2 linked regions of the Homo sapiens genome follow. The protein of the gene in region 2 purifies or fractionates together with the protein of the main gene of each other region. This does not show direct contact. Each region holds a gene or a part of one and is shown on either strand. Other genes may lie near its edges. The genes, in order: ZMYM2 and RREB1.

Region 1 (3,500 bases), on a different chromosome or scaffold from region 2:
TGTATGGCTATAAAGTAAAAAGAATTTGTCTCACTGTATTATAGTCACATTTTACAAACATTATTCTGTCTGCAACTTCTAACTGTGCATCCCAATGTTACTTAGAATAGCTATGTAAGTATTTTTCTTTTTTTTTTTTTATTATACTTTAAGTTTTAGGGTACATGTGCACATTGTGCAGGTTAGTTACATATGTATACATGTGCCATGCTGGTGCGCTGCACCCACTAACTTAAGTATTTTTCTTATCCAACCTAAATGCATGGTTAGAGACAAATAAGTTTAATGCAAGAGTTTTAACAGATCTTTCCCAACATTTGCATATGAAGTTGCAACAATTAGTTATATTCCTAGCAAATTTATCCTGATTACAATTTAACATTAACTTGTAATATAAAAAAACATTTTTATGGATAAATTTTTAAAAACTCTTTAGACTAACTTATAAATTCACAAAAACTAATCTGACCTTGAAATTCACTAGGAACACTTAGAGAGAAAAAAAAAAATCTGGAACCCTCTGAAAAAGAGAGAAAAACCTAATCCTTGGCAGCCTACTGACATTAAAGAGAACGGTCTAAATTAAGAATAAACAAAAACAAGATGATAACTTATACTAATAAAACATAAACGTGCAAAAGTTTTTAAAAACCCAACCTACTGGCTGGGCATGGTGGCTCACGCCTGAAATCCCAACACTTTGGGAGGCCAAGGTGGGAAGATCGCTTGAGTCCAGCAGTTTGAGAGCAGTGTGGACAACAAAGTGGGTCCCTGTCTCTACAAAAAACCGACCTATTAAACATGCATTATCTATTTCTGTGAATAATCACTTTATTTTTTTTTTTATTTTTGAGACGGTCTCTCACTCTATTGCCCAGGCTGGAGTGCAGTGGTGCAATCTTGGCTAACTGCAACCTCCACCTCCCAGTTTCAGGTGATTCTCCTACCTCAGCCTCCTGAGTAGCTGGCATGACGGGTGCCTACCACCATGCCTGACTAATCTTTGTATTTTAGTAGAGACAGGGTTTCACCACATTGGCCAGGCTGGTCTCGAACTCTTGACCTCAGGTGATCCACCCGCCTCAGTCTCCCAAAGCTAAGATTACAGGCGTGAGCCACTGAGCCCGGCCAACCAGTTTACTCTTATGTCATTTCTTGAAATAGCAAACATGAATATTTACAGAACATTAATCAAATCAGTAAAACTAAAACCCAACAGCTATACCCTTCTTTCAAATTAAAGAGCATTGATTTTTCTTAAAATTTATTACTTCTAATTTTCAATGGACTGTTATAAAGTTAAAAATAAAACAGGACTAAGAACAAATCCCAAAGTCATACTAATCAAGTGATTTTGCTAACCTCTCTGCACATCTTTTTAAACTCTTAAAAAGAGTTTAAAAAATGTTTACGAAAATTCATTCTGCAGCTCCACAGAAGTGCTTCAAGTATTGTGTAAAGCTTGATCCAAAAAAAATTAATATATCTTAAATATGCACAAAAACAACAGATATGTTCAAATGTGTTATAATCCAAATTTTAACACATTTTAAAATGACCAACTCATCTTGTTGCCAAGCATTTGGTGATGACCATAAAGACCCTTTTCATATGTCTATTTTAGTAAGAGACATCAAAGACTACGAAGTGATTTGTTTAAAAAACCAGGTTGTAAATATAAAAATGTGCAACTCCAACTACATAAAAAAAAAAATTCTTGCTGGTATACAACCAAAATAAAATATGAAAATAAGCTGCAACTGTTACTCAGATTGCTGCACTCAAATTCATGGATTTATCCAACAGCAATTTTTCTCATTGACAACTTTGTAAGTGTTATATATTGGAGACCTGCATTAGAACTTTTTGATCTGAATACTTCAAAAGTCCTGTTCACTTCTATGCTTTGACAGGAATATAAGAAAATTAACCAACTGAAGTGTTTTTAAAGGAGCAAAACGCAGGGAGTCAAAGCAATTTATTTCTTCCCTAAATTGAAATGCCCTACATAAAATACTATTTGTGAATCCAATGAGAGAAAACACTTGAGTTTGGGCTCTCCTTGCATTCGCTAAAAAAATCACATGCAGGCCGGCACGGTGGCTCACGCCTGTAATCTCAGCACTCTGGAAGGTTGAGGCGGGCAGATCACCGGAGCTCAGGAGTTCGAGACCAGTCTGGCCAACATGGTGAAACCTTGTCTCTACTAAAAATCCCCATCTCTACTAAAAATACAAAACTAGCCAGGTGTAGTGGCACGTGCCTGTAGTCCCAGCTACTTGGGAAGCTGAGGCAGGAGAATGCTTGAACCCTGGAGGCGGAGGCTGCAGTGAGCAGACATCACGCCACTGCACTCCAGCCTGGATGACAGAGACTCTGTCTCAAAAAAAAAAAAAAAAAAATGGCTGGGCAAGGTGGCTTACGCCTGTAATCTCAGCACTTTGGGAGGCTGAGGCAGGCGAATAACTTGAGGCCAGGAGTTCGAGATCAGCCTGACCAACATGGTGAAATCCTGTTTCTACTAAAAATACAAAATTGGTCAGGCACAGTGGCGCATGCCTGTAATCCCAACTACTTGGGAGGCTGAGGCAGGAGAATCACTTGAACCCAGGAGGCAGAGGTTGCAGTGAGCCAAGATCACATCACTGCACTCCAGCCTGGGCAACAAGAGTGAAACTCCATCTCAAAAAAAAAAAAAAAAAAAAAAAAAATATATATATATATATATATCCCATGCAATTTGAATAGCCCAGTCTTCTCATAATCAACGACATTTATTATGATATATATTAATAATATTGTCAAATGGTATAGAGACATATTAATGCTAGAGAGACAGGAAATATAACAATTCTAATTATACCATGCCTTTTGACACCAGGGTTTCAGCATTTCATACCCATTCTTCCCATCACATTAATACCAGAGCATCTGACTGAAGGTAAAGATTCACTTTGTCTCAAATGCATTAATATTAAATTTGTACACTTCTGTACCTCAAACAAGGGCAAAATACAATAAAACTGAAAAAATAAAAACTGTTGTTCAAAGATAATATAAGCTCTATATCCACACAGAAGTTAAAAATGTTCATATGTCAGCATATATGTCATACTTGAGTGATTCAGGATTGTCTCACCACATGAGATACAAAAGCCCAGCCCATGGAAAAGTAGGGACCACTTTATATCTTCCTCCCAACAATTTAAAAGGATAGGTGGGAGGGAACAGATATTAGAAAGGATGCACTAAAGAAATATGCCATAAATATGCAAAGTATTTTTAACTGTCAAAATACTTTGTAAATGGATCTAAAAGCATTTACATATGTTCCTACTGTATAATAAAAGTACTTATTTAGTCAAGGCCAATTAAAAATCATCAGGTTATCTTCATCTTACTGTCTAGCACATAGCAGCATCACTAGTTGCTGTTTTTAAGTAAAGAAATGTTCAACTCTAAGCTAAATCGTTAAGCAAAACAAGAACCATTCTGGTATT
Region 2 (4,029 bases):
ATATATCGCATGCAATACAGGCAGCGCACCCAGTGGACTTGTAGATGAGACCCAGGCCACGACTACTGTACCTTTCAAGCAGGCTTTCTCAACCTCAGCTCTGCTGACGTATGGGGGTCGTTCTGTGCACTCCAAGATGTGGAACAGCATCTTTGGGGTCTATGCACTAAAGGCCAGTAGCAGCTCCCCGCTGCCGCCCCCCCCCCCACCAGAAACACTTAAAAATGTCTCCAGACAGTGCCAAAAGTCCCCTGGGGGCAAACCCACCAGGTTGAGAACCACTTCTTCAAAGAGTAAGCCCCAAGCTTGTCATCAGCTTTTTCCTTAAAACTCATCCCTCACCCTGATCAACATGGTGAAACCCTGTTACTACTAAAAATACAAAAATTAGCTGGGCGTGGTGGTGTGTGCCTGTAGTCCCACCTGCTCAGGAGACTGAGGCAGGAGAATCGCTTGAACCCTGGAGGTGGAGGTTGCAGACAGGCAAGATTGTGCCACTGCACTCCATCCTGGGCGACAGCAAGACTCTGCCTCACCTAAGTGAACCACATTAAGAAGAATTTGCTAGTCCTGTTAGTCTCCCAGCACTAAAAACAAAAACAAAGTGCTGCATTTCCCCAATCTGAACATAAACTCCTAGGCAAAATTTGACTAAGGTAATGGAGGTGTGCAAAATTCTGGAAAGGAAATCCAGAATGGATACCCACAAAGCTTCCTGAGCTCAAAATATACCACTTTCTTCCGTTTATAGATTTTGACTTTCTGGAACATCTACTTTATCCTTACAACAATCTCATGAGGTAGAAAGGCTACTAAAAAGATACATGTCATCACAGTTCATCAACAGAAATGCTACCAAGAGCAGAAGTGCTTTTTAAAATTTCCTTATACCTTCAAACTCAATTAGGTTTATTTTGAAAAGGATCTGGTCTTATTTAAAAACCACACACCATACACATGGAGATAAATAGGCAGTATATATTTAATGCTGCTAAGTCCTCCTGAGGTCAAACTGACTCTAAAAAGCAGCTGTTCTACAGGGCTAGGCTGGAGTTAGGAGTTCTGGGTTCCAAGTTTGATTCATTAACAGCCCCCGGGTGGACCACCGCGCAGCTGTAAAATGGGTCAACATACCCACCCAACTCCCACAGTGTTCCTCTCAGCATGAACGTGGAATCTTTGCTAAAGGCCTCCACAAAAGCAGGGTGAAATTAACTAAGTCCTAGAAGGTATATCTGAATGAAAAAGAAAAATTTTAAAGTGATTAAACCACCAGAAGTATCAGACACTTTCATAACAATTCTATCCCATAGTCTCTGAAAAGGGGGAAAGAGATGAAATACCAAGCAAACTAGAGAAAAACAAATAGAGCATTTAAAAGCTTTATCTAATTACCCCCACTGAGACGTTTTCTCTTCACTCTGGCTGTCTGACAATGCCTGTGGGGGTTTTCATTCTCTTTCTCCACCCACCCTCATGATGTCTGCAAGCCCTCAGGTGAATCCCTGCAGGAGCAGTCAGGACCCAGTCCCCAGTCCCCGGACTTCACAGAGGTTTTCGAATTCTCTTAGCTTTACTGGCTTGAATCACACTGAACAAACAATCTCCACCCTCTCCCATGCTTTCGTCTGAAGCACCTACTCACAGTCAGCCACCTCTACTGATGGGCAGACTGGCTAACTTCAGTACCCTTGAAGTCCCACCAGAAATAAGATGCACCGATCGCTCCCAGTCTCCTCCTCCCCATCCGCTTCACCCCAACCCGCCACTGCCAACGGCAGAGTGCAATCCCCAGCTACACTCGGCTGCAGTTCAGACCACGCTGAACACCAGAGAACGTGACAAGAGAAATTGGGCGGAGCACAGTCGATGACATTGCCGACAGGACTGCTAACAAAAAAGGAAAAACCCCTCTCCACCTTCCTCATTCTTTTACCTCCGTAGTAATGAAAACAACAGTAGTTTTCTTTTCTGTATTCTGCCTTCTATGGGAGTGGGGGAAATGAAAAATAAGTGATGCATTTCAGAGAGCACACCGTATGCCTCCCTCTGGGTTTCATACGGTGTACCTTTTACCTTTGATATAAGGTACCTGCAACCCTGCAACCCTCACCCCCCTGTGGAAATCACTGTCTGACCCTTGCTCTTTGAAAACTGCCATGGCTACTTCTACTCAAAAATCACTGTCTAAATCAGGAAAGAAAGAGAGAAAAGAAACAGAAAGAAAATACATTTATCAATTTCTTAATTATATTTGGACATAAAAAATATGACTCAACACTGCCTGTTCAATAGGTCAGATGTACAGAAATTAACCTTGAAGCAGGGAAACTTTTGGCTTACAACAGGCTTACCATTCAACCAAGAGATGATAGTTACTCATCATGGCTTCAATTAGATTTCAACCATTTTATCTCAATGAAAAACTTCAAGATACTTGAACATACTTTTGGCAGAAATGTAATGTACATCACACCTATTTTTGTTTTCTGACATTTGGCCAGTCCTTCCAAAGATACTCTGAACCTAATATAATTATTTTTAAAAAGATAGCTATGAACTGGGCGGAATAAACTGCACTAGGGAGGTGGAATGAAATGGAGGAGAAGCCCTATCAAAACCTAATCTAAGGGAATGGTAATCTCAGTAAAGGGGGAAAGAAAGCTATTGTCCCCTTATCAGGACAGACTACATTGCATACTTTCTACTGATACTAAATTGCATTTCTATCTTTGAATACAAATCTGTTTCATGCGGAATAAAAGACATAACTTTATGGATTATGCAGAATTTCCAAAACAAACCATGGAATCAGTTATTAATACTAGAAATAAGAGGGTACTATACACACAAATCCTCAGGAAGGTTCAACCTGAACACACTGGTAATAGTCAAGAAGTCCACCAGACAAGCTGCCATCTGACACCACAAGGCTGGTCATAGAGTACTGAACTTCAATTAAAGACACTTACAAAAGAAAGAGATTATTTAAATATAATAACAAAACCAAAACAAACTTTAACATCCTACCTTCCCAGGTCAAAGGACATAGAAGATTCAGAAATTAACTAAACCTAGTAAATAATGTAAAACAGGGAATGACTCCCTTTCAAAAATGCTTTGGTTAATTTTAGCATCCTTCTGTTTAGCTGCTTAGCAACCCTTATCCTATGACCTTCTAAGCACCACCTACTTTTCAGAAGGATAATGAACAGAAACATCAAAAGAATTCACTTCTGTTTCCAAAGAATATATTTAACCAATTCTTATAGGAGTTAAATTTATATTAATTATGCTGAGCAAAATCCTAAAAGGGTAGCATTTTAAAACTTCATTAACTAGGACATTTCCTTAGCTGAAGGTGATAAATGATGTTAGCAAGCAAGCATAAGATAGCAAGCAAAGACTTCCTAACTGACCTCAGAAGTGGAATAACGCAACAGTTCAAAATTGAAGAGCAAAAACGACCTAAGGCAGCTACACTGTACAGTGCCTGGCACACAGCAGGTAACCAATAAACTGCTGTTGATCAGATGCTGGACTAATACGTGTAGGTTTATTTTCTTCCTTCAACACGCTGTACCTGTGTTGGATACAAATAAGGCCTTGGGAGTCTGCCCGAAGAAATTTAAAAGACCCTTCAATCAAAAGGTCGCTTGTTGGATGATGTAACTAGTTAGGAATGGATGCACTACCTGTACCAGCTCAATAAGACGCATGTTCCCCATCACATAACAAATACTTGTCTGCCATAAGGGCTTAGAGTCTGATTTTCTGATGAGAAATAAAGCAGTATCTAGAAAAACCCAGAGAATGATATTCCACAAAACGGTAAGCATCGGCAGCATTTCTTAAGAGTATTACACATCCAGCAAATCCTCTTTAAAAACAAGACATTCTAAAATGCAACCAGTTTAGCAGTATTTTTAAGACAAAGACAATGCAAGTTCATTAACCTAAAATGGAGCACAAGCTAAGCAAATAACTAAATCAAAGAGTTCTTCTCTCCTTTTCTTTTGTAAAAATGGG

The links.
Region 1: the proteins of RREB1 (region 2) and ZMYM2 fractionate together in Homo sapiens (co-fractionation; one large-scale study listed by BioGRID). This does not show direct contact.

What each region holds. Positions count from the first base shown.
Region 1 is NC_000013.11:19,961,727-19,965,226, reverse strand, and holds part of ZMYM2 (zinc finger MYM-type protein 2), read right to left. Parts: intron 8-3,500; coding exon of another isoform or gene 1-7. UniProt on the Homo sapiens protein: Involved in the negative regulation of transcription.
Region 2 is NC_000006.12:7,110,647-7,114,675, reverse strand, and holds part of RREB1 (ras-responsive element-binding protein 1), read right to left. Parts: intron 1-4,029.